7 linked regions of the Homo sapiens genome follow. The protein of the gene in region 1 purifies or fractionates together with the protein of each later gene. This does not show direct contact. Each region holds a gene or a part of one and is shown on either strand. Other genes may lie near its edges.

Region 1 (3,500 bases):
TGGAATATCAGATTACTTTGGGTTTCTACTAAGATTTCCTTTTAGTATTTTACAAAGCTCTCTGTCATTATCTGTCCTAGTAGTAAACAGCATCATTGATTTCCATCTAGGTCCTATTAGTCATAGGTGGATTATGGTTTGTTGAGTTCTATGGATAAATTATAGCAAAACTGAGTTTGTAATCCTTAAAAAAGGGCAATATGAAACATACAAGTTTGGGAGAGAAATGATAGGAAATATATTTGCTTGAAGTTTCTGGACAGTGATGAATTAGAACAAGTGTCCATGTGTCCTGTGCTGACTTCTGAGTGTTGGACAGTGAGGGATTGTCATTGGATTTTAAATTGACCCAATTTTGGAAGCTTCATAGATCTGTTTCTGTAAACAGATCCAATTTCAACATAGAAGTTAGCAAACATAAATGTGGAAACACAAAGTCCATTAAACTTCCTTCAGACTTAGTTTGTGACTTTGATTAACAGTTAAAATTGCATGCTGGATTATGTTGCCATTTACTGACTGCTGCTAATCCCTTATATACAAGAAAAAAATGTAGGTGTTTTCTCTCTGGGTAAGATGAAAGTAACTCCACTCTATTTTACTTGTGGTAATGTAACAGGATCTCTTATCCCTTGTGAAAGTAGGAGAGGATGTCCCTGGAGAAATGGCACTGCCTGGGATGGGACCATCTTAACTAACTATACTTCTAATGAAGTCTTGTCTTACTCTGTTTATTCTATTATATTACCAGTTTAACTCATGACTTTCTCTTTAATAGAAATAGGCAAGTCATATCTCACTGACTGGATAGCAAGGTGTTTGAGAGCATCTGTCACACCAAAGTCTTTGTTTTGCTCAGGAGCTGGTAGTCCCCTATTTCACCCTGCTTAGAATGCACCCTCTTGCAGCTTTCCCCAACCCGGTCTGAACCTGCACCTTTTGATTTATAGAGCTTGTCAAGACTAGTTATTTTTGGTTTGAGAGTGAAGAAAGATGGGAGGCAATGGGAGGTTAATTTCAGATGAATGTGGGAACAGGTTACATTGCTTTGTCTGCAATCTTCCTAATTTGTATTTGTCTTCCCCTTCCATTTATCTCTTACCCTAGAAAAAGTCAACGTTCATTCTTAGCTTGTAGAACTCCGCAGGTCTGTCTGTATCTTTTAAGTATTTTTTACATCAGGAAACCATCTCTGATCCTCTTTTATGCTGTTCTCCTTCTCTGCACTTCCAGAGCGCTCTCTGTTAATGCCCTCTTGCAGCAAGGATAGCCCTATATTGTAATTGTTTGCATTCCCCCATTCAATTGTGCGTTCTTGGAGGGAAGAGATTTTTTTTTGTTGTTGTTGTTTGAGAAGGAGTCTCGCTCTGTCCCAGGCTGGAGTGCAGCGGTGCAATCTCGGCTCACTGCAGCCTCCACCTCCTGGGTTCAAGCTATTTTCCTGCCTCAGCCTCCCGAGTAGCTGGGATTAAAGGCACGTACCCACCACGCCCGCTAATTTTTGTATTTTTAGTAGAGACGGGTTTCACCATGTTGGCCTGGCTGATCTCGAACTCCTGACTTCGTGATCCGCCTGCCTTGGCCTCCCAAAGTACTGGGATTACAGGCATAAGTCACTGTGCCCGGCCGAGATTTTATATCTCTATCTCTGTCTGTCTGTCTGTCTGTCTGTCTATCTATCTATCTATCTATCGTTTTAGTCTTCGCTTTTTGGAAACAAAAATGGGCTATAAGACACGATGGATGGCATTGAATAGGCAGTTTTTAGAGGAACCTAATTGGTTCATAGCATACAGGATAGGCTTTTTCCTTGGGTCTTTGTAGGAATATTGGTCATTAATAGCTATTTTTCCATGCAGAATATTTCTAGTTTTGCAAGAATCTGAAGCTGTGGTAGATTCAGATAATTTTGAAATGTGAAGCTGATTCTCTTGCTTGGCAACTTGATTTGTTTGGGGGAATGTGGTTGACGCATGTGCCTTTTTTTTTTTTTTTTTTTTGGTGAGACCTGTTGACAGAAATTCAATCTTGATTAAGGGACGCAGGAAGGCATCCAGTTCCCACCATGCCTGGGGCTCTCTCATTTAAACAGCTGCCTTTGGCTCTGGCCTGTTCCATTTCCCACTAGGCCCTGTGGACTTTAATTTTGGAAGATTTCACATCCTCATATTTATTATTTCTGGGGGAGGTAGTGTCGTGAAACCGAAATTACCCAGTAGTTAGCTTTTCGTTTTCTTGATGTACTTGTCCTATCAGCCTTAATTGAAGAGAGTCAGACTTCTCAATGGATATGTATTTATTTATTCTCTTTTTCCAGGGAGAGGGGATGGTCTCCTGAGTTGGCCATTCTAGACCAAAATATAGCTTAAAAGAAGCTTTTTTAAAGAACAGGTCATGTTAGGAAAATAATATTTTGTTTTTAAAATTTCACCTAAAGATTAAGTGTACTTAGGTTTGCACCCCTCGCCGTTTGTTCCCCACTAATCAAATGTAGTCTTAGACCTCAGAGGACAGCCTTTCTTCTGCTGCTTGAACCCTCTTCATAGTCTCTTTACTCTAGAATATCACTGAGGTTTTCACTAACCACCATCTTATATAGAGGAAAAACTTCATATGGAAAAGTATACTTAAAAAAAGAGGAATCAATGGATTTTTTAAAAAATTTATGGGAAGATTCAGATCAGAGCTTTCCAAATATATTTATAACAGGATTTGTAATTTGCTAAAGTTTTCTTTATGAGCATATCAGGGATGCTTAGTTTTCATAAAGGGCAGGATTTGTCTTTGTTGAACAGGATCTTATGATTTGATTACCTACCTCCTTTTTGAAGCAATGTTTATAGGAAAACTTGTGCATTAGAGAGACCCCAGATTTTGGAATCCTGCAGACTTGTTCTTTTAAAACTCAACACTGCTATGTATTAGTTTGGTGATCTTGGAATAGTGTAACTTCTCTGAGCTTGTTTCCTTGTTTATAAAATGGTGATGGTAGCATTTATTTATAAAGACATCTATCTATTGTCTATATTGTTAATGCAGTTTAAACGAGATGATTTATGTGAAGTGTCTGGTAAGGTGCCTGGCCTACAGTAGACAGTATTTGGAAGTTATTATCTCTTGCTCCATGACATTTGTTATTTATCTATTTAAATGTGAATTTTTTTTTTTTTTTTTGAGACAGAGTCTTGCTTTGTTGCCCAGGCTGGAGTGCAGTGGCGCGATCTCGGCTCACTGCAACCTCCGCCTCCTGGGTTCACGCCATTCTCCTGCCTCAGCCTCCCGAGTAGCTGGGACTACAGGCATCCACCACCACGCCTGGCTAATTTTTTTGTATTTTTAGTAGAGACGGGGTTTCACTGTGTTAGCCAGGATGGTCTCAATCTCTTGACCTCATGATCCACCCGCCTCGGCCTCCCAAAGTGCTGGGATTACAGGCGTGAGCCACCGCGCCCAGCTTAAATGTCTATTTTTAAATAAATAGGCAGTGGATAAGAACACCA
Region 2 (4,145 bases), on another chromosome or scaffold:
TTGACACTGTGTGGTGAAATATGTATTGGTAATACACAAACCTAAATGTTGACCAAAAAATCTCATTATCTCACTAAAAAACAGAAAAGTTATTATCTCCAGAAAAAACATATGTAAAAAGGATTTTATGAGAAATTTAAATGGATCTTAAGAAGGCAAAATGTATCAAAAAAGCAAACACCATCCCACCATGTTAAGGAAGATAAACATCATCTATTTCAGTAACTGAAACACAGAATTGTATGTATAATTTTCATTCACCAGTTTTTCCAAGTAGGCCTTATACTATGAAAAAAATCTAAGCTCTTGATTTTGCAATACTCCAAATTGCCACTTGCTGCCTCCCAACTTTTATAAGTAATACATTACATAAGTCAAAGACTGTCAACTTTCCTAGTGGATTCCAATACTCAATAAAATTTAAATTTTAATAACATAGTTTGAAATGATTAAAGACAAATTCCTTTCGATTTTTCTATCTTGAAATGTGCATCTGACCAAACCAATTTTTTACCTACATTTACATAGACCACTTCTCAGAGGTGACTTTTCTGATTATGCAACATATAAGTATACCATAAGATCAACATGATAAAGTTATCTGAAGTCTATCCCAACAAGAGAGAATGCATAATTCACGTGTATGCAAAAGCAGTAAAATAAACTATATTTTTCTATTCTTCAATAAATGAACCTATAAAAAATGTAAATAAGAGGCAAACTTTGGTCCCATCACTGGCTCATTTTTATCATTTTGACAAATTACCGAGTACAGCTATCTGAAAAAGCTTAAAATCTAAAGTTGTAATCTTTTTACATAAAAGTAGCCCGTTTCGGGACTGATTGTGTGGCTCAATCAGAGGAATCATCACTCCTAAAAGTCTGCCACTAAACTCTGCTACTATCACCAGAAAATGAAGTATGTATTGTAAAATAATAATAACAGTGATAATGACGATGATGAAGGAAAGAATCATTATGGTAATATATAGCCAGTAAACAGATGAATGAAGAGAAAAATTAGTGGGGAAAAGGTCTAAGTGATAACTAAACTTTAAAATTACTATTTAAAATAACAATAATCTTTACACAACACCTTTTTGTGCTGTGGAAGGGAGCTATAAATTCAAAAACATAAGTATGCTACAATAGAAAAGTTTCTGGTGCTTTGACTCAACATGTCGCTCTAACACAAACATACATCTTTTTCTACAAATATTTTCACAGTTCCAAACACTTCATTCAGGAATCGAAAAATGAATAATGGAGGCGTAGTTTTGTTAGGCCTTTAACAATCATTTTGTCAAAGGGAAGACAAGTTCGACCCCAAAATAGTAACTAAATACAACAACGTACTGTTTAAGTACTCCCTACAGAGTTTACTGCATTGGTTTTTAAATTTAGCTTAAAATAAGATAGTAAAGTTAGTATTTAGAGAAGCCTCAATAATCGATTATTCTTTTTAAATTAAATATCGCTACATGTAATGCAGATTAGGACTAGAATATTAAAGCAGTGTTGCCACTTAACATTAATCCATGAACATATTCTACGCGTGACTACTGGAAAGCACTAATAACCACCCCAATCTAGTCTCTAGGAATTGGCATTTAAAAGCCCAAAGATGGAAAAAGGTCACCTAACCCGGCAACACATCCTGAGGGAAAGGAGGGACACAGGACTCCGTGCGCGATATCAACATTCTCTTCCTTTCTACTCTCCGCACCGCCCCCGCCCCCCGTGTCAGGTGATCAGTTATTTAGCACCATTAACACGTACGTATCGACAAGTGGTTCATTAAATTACATGTATTATCGGAAGGCAAGAGTCTAGGCTTCTCATTTCAAACTAAGCAAAAGGAGTCCACAGTTTGAGTCCCGGGCACAAAAGCGCGCGGTAACTGGAGGATAAATGGAAGAGCAACTCTCATCTCCAAAAAGCAGCAGCAGGGAGCAGCCTAGCAGCCAGGGCCAGTCCCAGTTTCCCGAAACCAAGGCCCAAAGCTCCATGCTGGGGCTCCCTGAGAAGGAAGAGGCCCCAACGGCCGGATCCGGGGGCCTGCGAGACGGGCCTTCCAGGCAGCGCCCGCCGTGCCTCGGGCCTGCGCGCCCGCGCCTCAGCGGCGGCGGGGCGCCCTCGCAGCAGACGGCTGGGTACCAGTGGTCGGGAGAGAGGCCGTGGTCCCGACCCTCCGCCTGGCGACCGCGTCGCTGCGACTCCCTCCCCAGCCCGCGGTCCAAATGGTCCACAGGCGCCAGCGGCGCGGCCCAGGTAGGCCGAGGACGTTGCGCAAGAGGCCCGAGAGGCGATCTCTCGGCTGCGCGGGAGAAAAGCGCGGAGAGTCCGCCGCGGGAGGGGCGGAGAGGCCCGCGGAGGCGCTGTGCGTGTGGAAGGGGATGGGGGAGGGGAGGATTGCCCGTCTCCCTGGCCGCGGCCACAGCCGCAACTCACCCAGCTCCGCCAGACGAGCGCTACCACTGGCAGCAAGAGGAAGATGGTGGACGCTGCCGCCGCCGAAGAGGAGGAGGAGGGGGCCCGGTGGGTGCCGCGGAGAGGGGGTACGCGCAGGACGTCGGCGTCGCTGCCACAGCCTCTTTTCCTCCTGGGACCAAATGGCTGCTGCTGACGACACTATTCTTGGCTTCCGCGCCGCCCTCCTAATCCTCGTTGCAGCCGCCGCCGCCCTGAGCCCGAAGGTCGCTTGCCGCGTGGGGACGGTGCGACGGCGCGAGACCCCGCAGCCATCGGCGTGCGGCGGCGGCGCGGGAGCTGGAGAGGGGCCGTGTCACGTGACCCCACTGTTTACCGTTCCGGGGGCCGCGGCCTGCGTCGCTGCCGCGCCTGCGCGCTTTAGGGCCTCGAGCGCCGCGCCTCCGTGGGGCCCCGGGCTGCAGCGCTTCCCGGCGTTGCCGCGCCCCTCCCTGTCTTCGGAGGACGCGGCACCGCCTGCGGGCTTCTAGCTCACACCTCCGCGCCGCCGGGAGGGGCGAATCAGAGGAGCGCTTTTTCTCGACCGTAGTAAGCACTAAGGCTTCACAGTTAATATAATATTGATGCGCAGCTCCCCAACCCCAGGTACTTTTTATTAATTGACTGTGAGTTCAAGAATGGTAGAATAGGATGGAGTAGATGAGCCCTCTGCCCAAATATCTGTGCTGGCTCGGCACAGCAGCCTTACCATTAACTACCTCCGTTACCCTCACCCTACATGGCTGATCTACCTCAGGACTCAAATTGCTACCTCCAAGAAACATTCTTGGTATCCAGTAAGCAGTCTTCAGAATGTGGTCCCAGGTTTCCCTGAGGGGTCGCCAAGACCTTTCAGTAGAGCCTCCATTCCTTTGCCAGGAGCATGTGTCTAAGGCCAAATTTTCTTCCCACCCTTCAACCAAAACAGCATATAGCAGCTGATTCAATGCAGAAACAGATAAGAGAATCCAGCCATCTTCTATTAAGCCAGACATTGAGGAAATCTGCAGAAATTTTAGATATCACCCTTTTATTAATTTGGAAAATATGCTTTTCATAAATACATTATTTGTGGTAACAAATATTGTGTAGAGGTCCAGAGACAAAAAAAGTTTGAGACCCACTGGTCTGCTTCCACAGACACTTGAGCTAACCCCTATCTCAGCCCTTAATAAGCGCTGTGAAGTAATTGTTGCTTGTCAGTCACTCCAACCAAAAGGAGCTACTTAGGGACAGGGTTTGTGGCTTTTATCTACAGGGACTATTACAGTATTCAGCCAGTACCTGCTGAGCACCTTACTGTGTGGTCTGCACTGTTCTAAAACCTTTACAGTACTTGTTGATTTAAGCTTTAGACCAACCGCAGCCCACATTGTAAGATTAGTGCAGGGTGGAAGAATAAGTCACAGGCATGTGGTGAAGATCTGTTCTTTCCTCTCTCTAGTCTTCTGATATTTTAAGCACTCTTAATAGCAAATGCTCTTCTACAAAGGAAGTTTGGGTTGTCCTGATTCCACTGGATTCTTAAGAGTTTCACCCCCTGTCTTGACTAATCAATCCCTCAAGACTTTGTTTTACAATCTTTTTGTAATGTGTTTTTGAGAAAGGAAAATAGAAATGAGTAATTTTTTTTTTTAATTCTCACTTGGGATGTCTGGGATGAATTATAAAAACAA
Region 3 (3,500 bases), on another chromosome or scaffold:
GTATGTTTGCGAATAAATGTTCAAGATTTTAACATTGGAATTAGGCCAGGCACAGTGGCTCACGCCTGTAATCCCAGCACTTTGGGAGGCTGCAGCAGACAGATCACCTGAGGTCAGGAGTTTGAGACCAGCCTGGCCAACATGGCGAAACCCCGTCTCTACTAAAAATACAAACAAAATTAGCCGGACGTGGTGGTGGGTGCCTGTAATCCCAGCTACTCAGGAGGCTGAGGCATGAGAATGGCTTGAACCTGGGAGGCAGAGGTTGCAGTGAGCCAAAATCACCACTGCACTCCAGGCTGGGCAACAGAGTGAGACTCTGTCTCAAAAATAAAAAACAAAAAAACAAAAAACAAATGAAGTTGGAATTAAAATATTTTGGAAACTATTGTATTTTGTTAATATCTCTAATTTATACTGATGCTATAGTAAAATTATTTATTTACATGTTGAATTCCTCCACTGGATGTCAGCTCCTTAAGAGGACTCATTCATAGACTTCGTACAAAGACATTCAACATATGGAATGAATAAATGATTACCGAACCACTAAACATACAAGGAGCAGAATAATGACTTTCAGCTTGAAATGGCTTCTTGAATATCAGTGTCCCTTTTAATTTTCCTAGAGGTACTTTTGAGACTTACGACATTTTTGCTGTTGTTTTTTCCTGTAAAAATAAATTTGTTATAATACAGAAAAATCTTAACTAGCCCTCAAAGGTTTGAGGTACTTATATTTCATCCACTGTAACTATAAGTATTTCTAAAATATACAAATTCAGCAAACAAACAAGGGAAAGGTTCACCTTCCATAGTCATCAAAGAAATACAAATTAAAGTCCAAGTAAGCTACCATTTTATACCCAAGCAAGCAAATATTTTAAAAGTAAATTATATTTTAAAGCCTAGCCATTTAGGCAAAATTCTAATATAACCAACTCTACAGAACCACGTTTTTGTTATAGAGGAAGTTAATCCCAAGAACCCATCTGATATCTGTAACAAGCTGAATCACAGAAACAAAGAAACCCAAGAAGGAATGAGTAATGTACAGCATTCTGTATTCTTTGCTACCTGTAGGATCTCCTGTGCTCTAATGTTGGTTTTGGTGAGTGGTTCAAGAGTTAAAAACTATCTGAAGTCAAGGTATAAGGCAGGGGAGGAGACTTAAAGAGGAGCAACTTTAAAGAACTAGAATGTGCACCACTCAGTTCTCTTTGGTCACCCAACCTAATAAAATAAACTGCATGGGATTACATACTCCTCAGTGAAGACAGTGATAGTTACCTGAGTAAAAACAGAGAAAATATTTCTCATTTTAGATTACTAATTGTTACCAGAACTACACTTTATTATTTGCAAGGAAGGGCCACTTCTGCCTCTGTTGGCTCCAGCCTTAAAACTGGAGTAAGAGGTATCACTATAAGCAGTCCTTTGGTGAGGCTGGGTGCAAATGGCAGTGGGCTCTCCCTTACCCATCCTTTGAAGCTACACAGACAAGGGCAGGCTTTGGAGTATCTGCAGTATTTTAAAAAGCTTTGAAACCTGGATTCTTTGTAATGGTGCCCATTACTAAGTACACTAAGCACATTAAGGCACTGAGAAAATTCGTTAAGAAAGAAATACAAAGAAATGATGCATAAAGATAAATGATGCACAACCTCATTCTTAGTAAATAAATGAAAAATGAGATACTATTTTTTTCACCTATCAGATTGTCAAAAGTTAAAGAGTTTGATTACAGCACTGCTGTAGAAAAACAGGCAATTATTTGCATGTAAGCGTGTAAAGAGAGACATACACACCACAACCTTCACATCTGTACTGGCAATAAATGGAAACACTGTAAGCATCCATCAGTAAAGACATTATGGTTTGGATGTTTGTCCCCTTCAAATCTCATGTTGAATTGTAATCCCCGATACTGAAGGTGTTTGGGTCATGGAGGAGGATCCTCGTGAATGTCTTGGTGCCCTCCTGACGGTAATGAGCGAGTTCACACTCTGAGTTCATGTGAGATCTGGTTGTTAAAAGGAGTTGGGACCCCCTCCCCTTGGTTCCTCTCTCGCCACGTCACATGCTGGCTCCCCCCTTGTCTTCCACCATAATTGAAGACTTTCTGAGGCCTCACCAGGAGCTGATGCTAGCACCATGCTTCTTGTACAGCCTGCAGGACAGTGAGCCAAAATAAACCTTTTATCTTCATGAATTACCCAATCTCACGTATTCCTTTATAGCAACGCAAACGGACTAACACAAAGGGACTAGTTAAATAACTGATTGTACAACCAAACAATGGGACACCAAGTAGCCCTTTAAAAAGAATGGTAGTTCTGTATATGCTTATATAGAAAGATCAAGATGGATTAGCTGAAAAAGACTTCTACACAACAGTATATATAATACGATCCCTTTGCTTTATTTTGTTTTAAAGGATATACACATCTATCACTATCGAATTCAACATTTATGTAAAGACCTATCTAATATCCTAGCTTCATTTCTCTATTCCCTTTCACAGCAAAACTTCAAAAAGTTGCCTATATATGCTGTACTGTACTTCATCATTTCTTATTCATTCTTTAATCTGCTCCAAACTGGTTTCTGCTGCCTCATCACTGTAGACTGATGACAAACTACAATCATCAGTGACCTCCATGTTGCCAACATCTAGCAGCCATTTATCTGTTCCAAACTTACTTGTCTTTTCTGCATCATTTAAAAACTGACTATACTCTTTCCTTCTTGAAACACCTCTATCTGAACTAAATTTTGGAGGTCTGGCGTCCTATTACCTTTTCCATTTATACTTTTTCCTTGGGCAAGATCATTCAGTCCCACGGTTTTAAATACCATTTCCTGAAATTTGTTAGTTCAGTCTGATCTCTCTGGTGAGTTTTATACTAATAAATCCAACAGTCATTTTGACATTTTCACTTATATTTCTAACTTAATTAGAAGAAAAATTAGAATTTCTCTCACAGAACTTAAATCATTTCTCTCAGTTCCAAAAATTATGACCTATGACTCCCCCAGTTTTCTCTCTCACTAAATGGTACTACACACATGCAGTGCTCATGGCCAGAGTACCAAGGGGTCACCCTTGATCTACCTTTGGACCCTCCACATCCCATCCATTAAGAAGTTCCACAGGTTCTCTTCAATACCCTACTCTGTACCTGGCTTTTTTTGCCCCATGACAAAATAGCACAAGTGACTGGCCACTCCCAATGCCTTTAAGGTTGACAACGTGCTAGCCATGTGAGGTTCTGTTCTCCAATTTTTTAAGCTACTTGTACATTTTGATGAGATAATTTATAAGGTATGACTCCTTCTTGGGATACATGACATAGCGTAAACTAAATCATTCTAAAAATAGCATCCATGTGATCATCTGCCTGTAACTTCCTAAAACCAGATGCCTAAATGGGCCCTTCATTTGTTGGCAGTTATTGACAAAGTCTCTTACCCTCTTCTTCCCAGGCTCAGAAGCACGA
Region 4 (2,284 bases), on another chromosome or scaffold:
GCCCATAGACTCAACCAACTGTGGCTCAAAAGCATTTGGAAAAAAGAAATTGCATCTGTACTGAACATGTACAGACTCTTTTTTTCTCATCATTATTCCCTAAACAATACAGTATAACAACTATTTATTTAGCATTTACATTGTATTAGGTATTATAAGTAATCTAGAGATGATTTTAAGTATTTGGGAGGATATGCAGAGGTTATATCCATATACTATGCCATTTAATATCAAGGACTTGGGCATCCTTGGATTTTGGCATCAATGGTACATCTTGAAATCAATCTCCCACAGATACAGAGTGATGACTGTATTCTTAACACATTCTTTTCTTTGGATTTTAAAATCTCTTCTTTACTTAACATCTCCTAAAATTTGGATTTATACATATTTATAATAAAGTTTATTAAGTTGATGATTAAAAAAAGAAAAACCTATGTTACACAGAGCTATTTAGGATTTAGTGAGATTGAAAATTATTTACCAAAAATAGGCCAAAGTTTCAATGCTGAAAGGAACTTTTAATATCTTAACTTGACCCAAATTATATTATTATTTATAAAAGTTATATAAATGCAGGCTGATTGTTTTAAAAGAGTCAAAAAGCCAAATATAAGTAAAGCACTAGAAATAAATTCAGTTGTAAAAAATTGACATCATTATTCTAAATGTTATGTGGAATCACAGGAAGAAACATCATTGCAATCATTATTCAAAGTAATATTAAAGATAACATAAGAGATGTTTGGTCTTAAATGTCAATTTGAATGTATAGTGTCTACAATAATAGATCAAAGAGAAAGTAAGTATATCTGTAATAAAAACAAGAAAAAATGAGTTGCAAATACTGTATTCTACAATGAAAGAAGAATGCAGATTAAGGATAAAACAGTCTTACCAACTAGGCCACCTTTAAGGATCATTTTTCAGGGTAGCTAAAAGGAGTAACAATAAAGCTCTACACATATAACTAAAATGTTTGCAATTAATCTAGTCCCAGCACTTTTATTTGTAGAGTTCTCAAATCAAAAGTAACAAATAATTATACATCAGGATTGTTAGGAATACCAATTATTTTACAACTGCCACTACGTGTTTCTTCTTCTCTGACACAAGTGGCACAGATCCAGGCTTGCTGTGTTTAATACGATTCACTTCCCTAGAAATAAAATATACAAAATATAAGCAAGTTATGGGAACTCATCTTAAAGAAAACTTTCTCAGAAAAATCAAAGCATTTTCTTTCACTAGAAAAACACCTATTTAAAAAAATATTTTCACGATGACAATAGGTAAAAGGAAGCTAGTACCAAGAAATCAACTTTACTTATTTAATTGCTTCTTATCATATTTACCTAATAGGGTCCTTTACTAAGTTTAAAAACCTTCCACAGTTAATAAAATTTCTAAAAGTGATTCTACTGCAACATCTACCCAAAGACAGAAAAAAAGAGCCATTTGTATATTCTAATTGAAAAATAAAGAGCTCTTAGAATTTCATGCATGACTTCAAGTATTTCAAAGAGAAGAATATTTCACGGGAAATGGTGGTGGTGGTAGTAGCTCTGCTCTATATCCAAAATGATAGATGTCATGTTATAATAAAGTATATCAGAACACTTTTTACTTAAGAAAAGAGCTCTACTATAGATTAATTCTTTAACTTGGAAAATACACAAAATCTCTTAATTCCAGCTACATCAGAAATTATTTTTTAAAACATTTTTTACAATAATTTTTTAATATGAGCAAGTGTTTTCTTATTTTGGTAACTCATTTTCATCGTTTGTCCTTTAAACATATTCTCAAAAACAGGTAATGGAAGTTCTCCCATTCTCAGATAGTCACTGCTTCCCTTTTTTGGGAAAAAGAAAAAGAAATGGCCTTCTGGGCGGGGCATGGTGGCTCACACCTGTAATCCCAGCACTTTGGGAGGCCGAGGCAGGCGATCACGAGGTCAGGAGATTGAGACCATCTTGGCTAACATGGTGAAACCCTGTCTCTACTAAAAATACAAAAAATTAGCCGCGCATGGTGGCGCGTGCCTGTAGTCCTAGCTACTCAGGAGGCTGAGACAGGAGAATGGCATGAACCCGGGAGGCGGAGCTTGCAGTGAACCAAGATTGTGCCACTGCACTCCAGAGCGAGACTCCGTCTCAAAAAAAAAAAAAAGAAAAAAGAAAAGGCCTTCTGTAGAAGTCTTCAAACACATCACTAACATACTATTAAATAATAGCACATAAACTACTCCCTTGAATGGCAGTTAACTTTGTTTTTGGTGAGA
Region 5 (3,500 bases), on another chromosome or scaffold:
TCTCCTGAGAAGTAAGGCCCATGTCATCTCCTCACCAAAACTGGCTTTACAAAAATGTCAGGGTGTCTATATAACTGAGAAGAGCAGAGCAAAGGCAGAAGAGGGGGCTGTAGGACAAAAAGCACTTCCAAGTGCGCCAGCACCACGCTGGGGATCTGGTGAGGGGGAAGGGCGTGCAGGCACAGGCAGAGGCCGTGCTGCAGGACACCCCCAGCACCAGCTGGCCAGGCATGAGGCGCCCACTTATATTTTATATATTTCATACATGTTAACACAACAGAAGCAAGGTACCCGGCTGTCATGAAAGGTAGCTAGTAACTGTAGACGGCCAAAACATCGAACAGTTGAAGGAACAGGATTTTTTTTGTTTGTTTAGAACGTGCTGGACAAACAATCATCAATGCTGTGAACGTGGGCAGATGCTTTCAACAGATCAGGTTCCAGAGCTAAGGGGGACGTGAAAGATGGAGTATGCCAGACACACATTAAAAAAAGGTGAAGAATCACCCAGCCCTTTCACCTGTAGGAGAAGAAACAGAAAGCGACTTCTGATCTGGAAGGCGGAGCCACCTCTAAGAGCTTCACAGCCTCCCTGCATTCAGACACGTACCTGCATGCTATCGCCCCCTTCTTTCTGGAGGAAGAACTGCTTCTTAAACTCATAATAAGCATTATACTGGTGCCACGGCTGCAGGAACTCAAATCTGAGCAGAAAAAGAAAGAAAATGGGTCATTTACCAAGACAAGCTCACTGAAGTAACAACAGGCCCTGTTCTCCTAGCTCTTTACTGATCTCAACAATCCCACAAGGTGGTTACTGTTTTAGCTACTCATCTTATAGACGAGGGAGACTGCACACAGGGGGTCGAAATCGCTTGCCCGGGGTTACACAGGTCACGCTGCAAATGTGACAACATATCTTTACGTTTTATTAGTACTGAGGCGTGGGACATTGCTTGGTTTTTAAAAAGAAGGGTTTGTGTCTAGATTTTTAAGGCAGATTCTTGAAAACCATGAATTATAGGCTTTTATTTTAGGTAGCTTCAAAATTCCTACTTAAAAAATGAAACAAAAAACAGGTAACATAATTTAAAAACACCACCCAAGTCTAAGCAATTTAACAAGCCAATTAAAAAATGTATTTATCTAAAGACATTGGTTGGGCGTGGTGGCTCACATCTGTAATCCTAGCACTTTGGGAGGCTGAGGCAAGTGGATCACTTGAGGTCAGGAGTTTGAGACCAGCCTGGCCAACACAGTGAAACCCTGTCTCTACCAAAATACAAAAATTAACCAGGCGTGGTGGTGCGCGCCTGTAGTCCCAGCTACTCAGGAGGCTGAGACAGGAGAATTGCTTGAGCCCAGGAGGTAGAGGTTACAGTCAATCAAGATCGCGCCACTGCACTCCAGCCTGGGTGACAGAGCAAGACTCCATCTCAAAAAAAAAAAAAAAAAAAAAAAAGACATTTGAGCCAAGAAAAGGCTTAAAAATATATAAAAAAATTAATTCTGTACCTACATTTTTTTAAAAAAAGGCTAAACGAAACCCCCAAATGCCATATACCTAACATATAAAATTCTTCTTCTGACCTTTGATCATTCTTGGCACGAACACTGGTCTCGAACTTCAGGCCGTTCCTGGCGACATACTCGGCCAGCTTGTCAATCACGGGCTGGACGTCGGGGGGCGGGGGGATGATGGCGGCCACGGGGGCAAGTGCACTGCAGGAGAAGAGTCTGTGAGACCCCTGGGCTTCAGGGGCTCGCCAAGCTCAGTCCTGGCTGCTCGGGGGTCCTCACCGCCTCAGATGCCCGGAGAGACATGTGAGTTATAAACAGTGTGTTAGGGGAGGCTCTTGTTGAAGGTGATGCACACGACAGAAACTAAAGTCAACTAGACAGGATTGTTGTCAAGAGTGAAAAATGGGGATTTTAGTGATAAAAGGTGCATTTTTCCTACTAATTAACATTTCCCCCCAATCACAAGCTAATTCTTAGAAATAACAAAGAATAAGCAGTTTGTTGTTGTTGTTGTTATATTGAAAACAAGTCGGCAAGCATGGTTCAACCTCCTTCATTTCCTGTCTGACTTGCTCAGCATGACCAGAAAGAGTCGTTTTCACAGAAACTCGCGTGTTTCATTCCATTTCCCAGGAGTCTCCTTTCAAGGCAGGGCATTCCAGGCCCACTGGTAAAGCGCCTGTCTCATACTCGTCCCCTGAACACTGGGGGCCCTCGCTGCTGGAGAAGCTAGGGCTCTGCCGATGGCTTCACAGGTTAACTAAAGTAGCTGCCAGGGTCCCCTGGTGGCCAACAGCTTGGGAGAGACTCATGAAGCACCCCAACATCACCTGCGTCAACTTTATGAACCTGCATGTTTTGCAAACAACTGCAGCTTCACTGCATACTGATTTTGCCTAGCACAGCTCAACTGAGACTCTGACACAAAGCGCAAGAACAGATGCTGGAGATCTGGGGCCAGCGTGCGACGTGAAATGAATTCAACTTTATAAGTGGTTTAACTTCAATGCTAAAAAGTTTGTGCTACAACCATTTCTGTTTTCCTGTCAACTTTGTAACTTGGGGATTTGGAATAATAACTACTCAGACAATGGGGACCCCTGTATATGATCTAGATTACAAGCCCCCCATGGAGACACAGACGGCCCCAGTGACTGCAGTGCTGAGTGACTCACACAGCAGGCAGCGGTGGACGCTGCACCTACCTTGTGGTGGTGGTTGTGGAGGTGGCCCCGCTGCTAGTCTCTGCTGTGGTTGGGGGCGGTAGTGGTGTGGTCCCAGGAGGTGGTGGGGCGGTGGTCGTCACTCCAGGGGAGTTAGACACGGTCACGCCAGCAGGAAGGGTGCTGTAGTAAGTAGTCACGTCGATTCCGGGAGGGGGCGGCGCCAGGCAGTAAGTGCCGTCCGGTAGCATGTAGTAGCTGTAATACATGGCTGCCACGGTCGCTGTGGAGACACATTGCCCCGGAGTGAGCATGGCCGGCCACAGGCTGGTCCATGAGTCCACAATGCAGCCACAAGAGCCCTTCCCCCGGCAAGATGCAGCCTTGCCTCTGCTCACTTCCAACCATGCTGTTTTCTAGATTTTTCTGATACAAAAAGTTGTCTGCACAATATGCAATTTAAAAGAACCAGGCAAAGCCACAACACGCATCCAAAGACAGATGGAAAGCGAATGGCATGAGGACATTCAAAGGCACCAGATATGAATACTCTCTAGACAAATTAATGTCCTCCTTAACTTCAAAATGTGCAGGTTGGGAACAGTCTCCTCTCTAGCGGCAACCAGTCATCCCTTTGCTCACACGGCCCACGAAGGCCACCTATGCTCCTAAATGCACATGTGAGGAAATGCCTTTGGCTAGCTCCCCGCGCTGACACCTGCTTTCATTCCCCAGGCACGCTGCTCCCTCCATTCACACGTTAATCCGGAAACCATCCCCTCAGTAAGGCAGCTGCTCCTGGCAACCCTGGCGTCA
Region 6 (3,500 bases), about 14 Mb from region 1:
GTAGGTGCTCAGAAAATAACAGCTATTATCATGTGTCCAAAAAAAGCTCTCTAGAGTTAAAAGCAGCATCTATCACTGAACAAGACAGCCAAGAGCCTGTGAACTCTGCCTACTGCTTGGTGTCTCAACACCTATTTCCCTAGTCACTGCCTTGAAATTAGCTCTTTAACCCCAAACTGCTAGAAAATACATGAAGTTATTTACTTAGTACCACCTAGGGAAAGGGAACATAGCTACTGCCAAGCCTGCAAGCTGCTATACTCCTTTCTGCTTCTCTGCTCTGCCTCTTCAAGGAGAAAATGTAAAACAGGGATGCAGTGAAACAATGCTATAAGCCCTAGCTTGGTAACATGGTCATGTAACAGTTCTGCAAGGCCATGGTACTTCACAAAGACTTGGTTCTTGGCTGACAAATGCAGAGGCGTGTCTCCCAAAGTATTGGGCATTTGGGTTGTCCCATGAAGGGAGTATATACTACTCTGCTTGACCAGCGGCTACACCCTCTTCCACTCTCAGTCTGCATGGTTCCACAGGGCTAATCCCACCTCTAGCTCTTGGGATGGGAACATGACTTAGCCCTGGCCAATCAGAACACCCAGCACCCCTGCCAAAGTGACAGGCTCAGGGATGGGAAAGTGAGTCAGGTCAATCTAAAAAGAACTGCAGAACTTCAGGTGGAAACACTGGGAAAGAGAAGTTCTCTTTCCACTTGGCTTGCTAAGCTAAGAAGACACACGTTCAGGGCCAGTGCCATTCTGCCTCTTCAAGCACAAAACCTGCCTGAGAACAAAGGCAAATCTGAGGAAAACAGTGCTTAGAGACTAACACAGAGACCAATTTTGATGACATGGTTTGATCCTGGATGTGGCTGTGCCTCAATTTCCCAGTTAATTTTTGCTTAAATGAAAAATGTCCCTTTTGGCCTCAATTTGAATTGAGTTTTCTGTCACCTATAACTGAAAGAACCCTGGCTAACAGCGCACAGCAATGCAAGAATACACAGCTCAGATTCAGTGGATAGAGGTGCTAAACAGGAGCCTGAATTTCTCTGACTCTTCTCCTTACTGGGGAGAAATATCTAAGGGTTCTTACTTTGTCTGTTTGTTGACCACAATCACAGAACAATCAACGGGCCTTTCGGCATCAAAGCGTCTCTGGATTTCCTCAAAATATTGACGATAAAGCTCTTCTCTACGCCGTTCCTCACGTTTCAAACGCTCTGCAAAACACCACCAGGGTAAACTGAAATAAGGACTGGACCCTCATTTTAAATCCTGAGCTACTTGTAGGCAAAGGTCATAATACTCTGAATCAATCCTCTGGTCTATCTCCTAAAAACAGCCAGTATTAATATTTTTTACTATTATAAATTAACCAAAATGTAATGCTGGATTAAAGGACGTGGCCATTTTAATGCTGCATCTGATACTTACTGCCAAGCTGCTCCCTGAGAAGGCTGATACTAATTTATACCTCCACAGAGGTAGATCATCTAGTGCCTATTTCTCCACACCTTAGTCAACAGTGAGTACTGTCATTCTTTTTAAGTCTTGCCAACTTGACAGATAAGAATATTATTATTATTCTAATCTGCATTTTTGCTTTTTTTTTGGGGAAAAAATCAAGTAGTAAAGTTTAAAATTAAAAATTTAAAAGTTCTTTTTTTAAAAGAAAAAAATCAAGTATAAAGTTTAAAATTAAAAAATTAAAATTAAAAATGAGATTCTTAAAGATTTCAACTTGGCCAGGTATGAAATAATTTAAGAACCTTTAAAGATGTATTGAGAAAAACCAGGCTTTAAAAAGACATGTTTGCCTTCATCTAAAAAAGAGATGCTGTTAGGTAAAAGTTATAAAAAAAACCAAAAACCTATTTTGCCTAGATAATGCAGATAGTCAGTCATAGTTACTTGGTCAGTAGGCAAAAAACAAGCACTTAATGTCTTCAGCTCCAATCTTTTGTTCATTTTTCTCTTTTTTTTTTTTGAGACAGGGTCTCACTCTGTCACCCAGGCTGGAGTGCAGTGGCACAATCATGGCTTGCTGAGACCTCAACATCCTAGGCTCCAGCGATCCTCCTGCCTCAGCCCCCCGAGTAGCTGGGACTACAGGTGTGCACCACTGCACCAAGACAATTTTTGTATTTTTTTTTGTAGAGATGGGGTTTTATCATGTTGCTTAAGCTGGTCTTGAACTCCTGGGCTCAAGTGATCTGCCGGCCTTGGCCTTCCAAAGTGCTAGGATTACAGGTGGTGGCCACAGTGACCAGCATTTTGTTCATTTCTTATTGCTGGAATTTCATATTTATTTCTTCTTGTTGGATGACTAAACCAGATGATGGTACTAATTTGCATCTTAAAAATCATTTTCAAGCCAAATGCTCTTTACCCACTAATAAGCTACTTATATTTCTTCTTTTTATACACTGCTTGGCCAAGGCACTAGCCCTTTTTCAGATGGGGGTACTGGTTATTAGTTTCCTCTCTCTTTTGTAAAGTGTTCTATCAATAATAGGAATAGACTGTTTCAGCTACTTTACCTTTTGCACGAGACTGACTTTCTGGGCCTGGAGGGCCCCGTCCATCAAAGCTATCTCTGTAACGGTCAAAATAAGAGTCATCCTTTCTCCTGCAATAGTCATCCATTCGTAGGTATCGGTCATAAGAGCCTTCTCTCCTGAAAAGTTAAGGAAATTTTCATAAAGATAAAACTGTGTCTTATCCTGAAAAAGTCACCTAGAGAATTCTCTGGGATTAGACAAATGAGGTTTATATCTGGGACTCACTGCATTATCAGCTCTGTGGCTGTGATAGAGTTAACCTGTCTCACTGAGATGATGTACAGAAAGCACTTAGCATGGTCTTTGGCATATATTAAATGCAAAATAACTGGCAGGAATTATTGATACTAGTTTTGAGGAAACATTACATGTCCCTCCCTTGTGCTTTTTAAAATTATATCTAAACGCATATAACAATAATTTGCCATTTTAACAATTTTTATTATTATTATTATTTTTTTTTTAGTAGAGATGGAGTTTTGCCATGTTGCCTAGGTTGGTCTTGAACTCTTGAGCTCAGGCAATCCAATCCGCCCACCTCGGCCTCCCAAAGTGCTGGGATTACAGGCGTGAGCCACTGCGCCTGGCCTAACAATTTTTAAGTATACAATTCAGTGGCATTATATTCACAATGCTGTGCAACCATCACCATTATCTAAAATTTTTCATCACCTCAAACATAAATTCTGTATTCGTGAAATAACTCCCCTCTCCCCAGCCACTGGTAATCTTTAATCTATTTTCTGTCTCTATAAATTTGCGTATTCTTGATATTTCACATAAAGTGAAATCATACAATATTTGTCTTATGTCTGGCTTATTTCACTTAGCATAATGTTTTCAACGTCCTTCATGCTGTACCACAGATCAGAATTTCATTTCATTTTATGGCTGAATGATACCACATTATATGAATACACCACTTAAAAACAAATCCACA
Region 7 (3,500 bases), on another chromosome or scaffold:
TGGACAAGACAATCTTGAATGTCAACAAGGTACTTAAATGCAAAATGATTATCCTTTTAGACTTAATACAATGCACTAGCATTGTGGGTAGCCAGGCAAAAAATCTGAAGTATCACATAAATATATTTGATATTTCTGAAGTATCACATAGATATATTTGTGCTGAATTTAGATAAACACTTATTGAAATGGTTCATGTGGCCATAATTCTGCAATTAAGAACCAATGGATATGCCCAAGGCTAGATGGAGGCTATAATTGGAGTAAGACCAATATAAACTAATTGTGCAATTTTTCTTCCATCTCAATTCTTGGCATATCACTTTAGCTCAAAGATACTGACCACTGATTTTGGTTAACAATAGAAGAGGGGGCCAGAAAGTTTAGGTATAGAAATACACGTGTTCTTAATCACACAACCGTACCTGCTACCTGCAGAAAACCTACTGGCTTCTTTTTCTTTTTCTTTCCACTTCTTTCCCTTGCTGGAATTCCTTCGCAAAGGCGCCCTGTAATGATAGTAAGCAGTCAGAAAGGGGAAGCTGAAATTTTCTCTTTCAATCCTCCTTTTACAGAGGGCTTTCTTTTTACATCGTGAAGTGCTTACCCCAGATCCACAAACTTCCGCTTAATTTTTCCTCCTTGCACCGCCAATGAACTGGATGCCCTTAGTGATTTGGGATCTTTGGCATCATCTAGGATATACACATTTGTGAAAAAGATCAATTATTATTATTTTTAAAGTCACAATTCAAAAGTCAATGCATCTCTGAATCTAAGGGCTTTGCCTAAATTCCTAATTGTAAAATAAATAATCAATGCCTTCTTATACGACCTAGGAGACACAGTTACATTGAGGAACTCGCAGTTAAGCAGGGGAGGTCCTCTATAGGACAGAGGCTCAACATTCATCACAAAGAGTTTTAGCTTCAACTGCATGGGAATGAACAAGGGAGAATAAATACTCTCAAATCATCCTCTGCATTCGAAGTAGGGACCAACATGACTTTTGTTCCTTCTCTGGCTCCAAATTCTTGGCTTCAAGTGCCTGGGCTCTGTCCTCCATTCCTTTCTTGCCTTGGGGTTGTAGTGCCTTCTAACAGGAACATAGCCCACTTCTCCCGTATCTCCAAAGCCCAGCGCAGAATATCACCTCTGAGAGTCTGGGAGATTTAGGGGGAAAGTCAGAGTCAAAGTTTTCTTCTCTGGCTCTCCTTTGCTAATGGCCTGTGGCCGGTCCTGGAACAGAGGAGGGGAGGACATGGGGGAGACTCCTTAAACAGGGGCTCAGCTACAAAACATTTATATCTTTGAAAGGGCCTTCTTAATAGTTAGGTTACAGCAAAACTTGGCTGGTTCCCCTTAATGTGGAAGATGCCAAAATCTCCTCAGTGTTCAGAGCAGACTGATCTTTGCCTCTAGGACTCTCAAAGGTAGCAGCTGCTGGGGAATGGGGACCCTCGAAATGATACCAAAAGCCAATAGGAAGACAGGCTTTGCAAATGGAGTTCAATGTCAAGGTGGGAACCAATTCCACTGGTGGCACTTGTTCCATCTCGGACAGGCTCTACCCAAACTATTCAGCAGAGGGTACTGATCGGCATCACGTTTCAGCATATCCAATTAGCTCAGATGATTAACAAATGCTGTTTTAAATTTGATGTTTTTTATGTGTGAAACTCTTCCTCCCCAGTTCTTTTTTGGTATCTGTTTTTCTGTCTCTTATCTTTTAAAATGTGTTTTAAATTTCTAGGAACTTTCTAGTATGGAAGGCAAAGAGAATGGCCCTCTTAAAAAAGTGTTCAATTAACTTTGCAGGTTAATGTTGCTCATGATTTTTGTTTACTTCAAGAGAAATTTCTCAACACACATCGACATACACCTTTAAAAAACATGAAGTACACACACAGTTCATGGATAGCAGTCTAGGTTCAAAGCTCTCAAGCAGCACAGGACACTGACAAATACTCCAAATGTTTTTAGCAATGAGCTTTTCATATTTTTAGTTAATGATACTTAGATTACAATAAGCAACTCACTGAAATGTACATAATGAAACACAAGAGTCAGAAATATGTCTGTGTCAAAAATCCACTTCAAGCCTCAAATATTTATTATGCATATTTGCATCATTACTCTTTGGGTAACTGAATTGTCACAGATGTGACACAATCATATAAAAAAATCCATAGACATAGACATGGCACAAACACCTTCTAAGGTGATTTTACTAATGGATTTTATTTTTAAAAGCAAGATTTAAATTTTCTTAATAGAAGCTGAAGAAAAGAAAGTGCCAAATTCTTCCAGATCAATCCTAAAGCAACTCTTAATGGCTAGGACTATGCAAAGTTAAAAGGAGACTGCCTAATTATTTCCTGAATGAGAGGTAGCTGGGAGATGTTACAATGAGCGCTGAGAAGACCAGCTGAGGCAATGTACACGAAAACACTCTGTAACCCATGAGTGTTGCAGTTATTTGGACATCATGCGACTAAAAGCCTGATTCTGCCTATCACAGAGCTTGGTGCTAGGCAACCTTACATCTTTATCTCACACATTTGCCAAAGTGCGTTCCCAGGAACACTGAAATGAATGCTTCCATAGGGCTGAAGATGTTAAGAATAAGGAATAATGTACTTTCCCATTTAAAATCGATTAAATCCATCTTTAATGCACACTAGAACTTCTAGTCTGCATAAAATCCAACATTAGATTGGTATGATTTCAGGAAAAAAGAAACATACATTTTGTTTATTTAGCTCTACGTAAGACTTCTGTTAGGCTTTTTAAAATCTCTCCAATACTACCTTTGTGACCAATTATACATCTGAGCCCCCAGATTGGGTGCCTCAACTTTAAGCTGTGGCAACCTGGTTTTCATTTTCAAATAATAAATGATCTCCTGATGGCCAAATCCTAAGGTCTTGTACTGGACTGCATCTCCTTAATCTCACTGTAATAAGATACTTGACTATCTCTTCCTTTATAATGGGGACTCCCAAATCTACCTGGCAGTCCTGACCTCTCTCTTGCGCTCATGACCTCCTCTGTTAAAAAAATGAGTTAATCCTATTTCCCCCATCATGTTGCTGATTTCCTATTTTCTGTTAATGACAAGACCATATGTTCTGAGGCGTGAAGCCCATGATAGTTTTGCCTCACTTTCTTACCTGTTACCTAGTCAAGGTATGTCTCAAGGGTCCTTGAATCATTCTTTCCTGTCACTGTCTACTGCTCCTCTTTAGAGGGCACCACCTCATAGGGTCTCCTAACTCAGCTTCTCCATACCTGGTGGTGTCTTTTCCTTTTTATTCCTCTGGTCAAACTTCTTGTGGTTTCCTAGTAATATGGCAAGTTATCTAAGATGTTTAACTTCTAAAGCTATATACTTAACCTACTGGCTCACTTTTGTGTGTAACTACTCCACCCTGCATAAGCAAACTGCTACAGCCAGGCTGGGATAGCCTTGTACCTTTAAATCATATGATATGTGCCTG

The links.
Region 2: the proteins of TPX2 (region 1) and PHF3 purify together in Homo sapiens (affinity purification with mass spectrometry; one large-scale study listed by BioGRID and IntAct). This does not show direct contact.
Region 3: the proteins of TPX2 (region 1) and YLPM1 purify together in Homo sapiens (affinity purification with mass spectrometry; one large-scale study listed by BioGRID and IntAct). This does not show direct contact.
Region 4: the proteins of TPX2 (region 1) and DCAF13 purify together in Homo sapiens (affinity purification with mass spectrometry; one large-scale study listed by BioGRID and IntAct). This does not show direct contact.
Region 5: the proteins of TPX2 (region 1) and SFSWAP purify together in Homo sapiens (affinity purification with mass spectrometry; one large-scale study listed by BioGRID and IntAct). This does not show direct contact.
Region 6: the proteins of TPX2 (region 1) and NCOA5 purify together in Homo sapiens (affinity purification with mass spectrometry; one large-scale study listed by BioGRID and IntAct). This does not show direct contact.
Region 7: the proteins of TPX2 (region 1) and PPP1R9A purify together in Homo sapiens (affinity purification with mass spectrometry; one large-scale study listed by BioGRID and IntAct). This does not show direct contact.

Annotation. Positions count from the first base shown.
Region 1 is NC_000020.11:31,745,790-31,749,289, forward strand, and holds part of TPX2 (targeting protein for Xklp2), read left to right. Parts: intron 1-3,500. UniProt on the Homo sapiens protein: Spindle assembly factor required for normal assembly of mitotic spindles. Required for normal assembly of microtubules during apoptosis. Required for chromatin and/or kinetochore dependent microtubule nucleation.
Region 2 is NC_000006.12:63,634,457-63,638,601, reverse strand, and holds the start of PHF3 (PHD finger protein 3), read right to left. Parts: upstream 2,801-4,145; 5' UTR 2,452-2,800; exon of another isoform or gene 1,809-2,451; coding exon of another isoform or gene 1,807-1,808; exon of another isoform or gene 1,780-1,806; intron 1-1,779.
Region 3 is NC_000014.9:74,829,316-74,832,815, reverse strand, and holds part of YLPM1 (YLP motif-containing protein 1), read right to left. Parts: coding exon 3,473-3,500; intron 1-3,472. UniProt on the Homo sapiens protein: Plays a role in the reduction of telomerase activity during differentiation of embryonic stem cells by binding to the core promoter of TERT and controlling its down-regulation.
Region 4 is NC_000008.11:103,441,670-103,443,953, reverse strand, and holds the end of DCAF13 (DDB1- and CUL4-associated factor 13), read right to left. Parts: intron 1,160-2,284; coding exon 1,072-1,159; 3' UTR 501-1,071; downstream 1-500. UniProt on the Homo sapiens protein: Part of the small subunit (SSU) processome, first precursor of the small eukaryotic ribosomal subunit.
Region 5 is NC_000012.12:131,752,590-131,756,089, reverse strand, and holds part of SFSWAP (splicing factor, suppressor of white-apricot homolog), read right to left. Parts: intron 2,968-3,500; coding exon 2,727-2,967; intron 1,723-2,726; coding exon 1,591-1,722; intron 705-1,590; coding exon 611-704; intron 1-610.
Region 6 is NC_000020.11:46,065,963-46,069,462, forward strand, and holds part of NCOA5 (nuclear receptor coactivator 5), read right to left. Parts: intron 2,677-3,500; coding exon 2,540-2,676; intron 1,220-2,539; coding exon 1,093-1,219; intron 1-1,092. UniProt on the Homo sapiens protein: Nuclear receptor coregulator that can have both coactivator and corepressor functions.
Region 7 is NC_000007.14:95,271,094-95,274,593, reverse strand, and holds part of PPP1R9A (neurabin-1), read right to left. Parts: intron 696-3,500; coding exon 608-695; intron 510-607; coding exon 426-509; intron 1-425. UniProt on the Homo sapiens protein: Binds to actin filaments (F-actin) and shows cross-linking activity. Binds along the sides of the F-actin. May be involved in neurite formation. Inhibits protein phosphatase 1-alpha activity.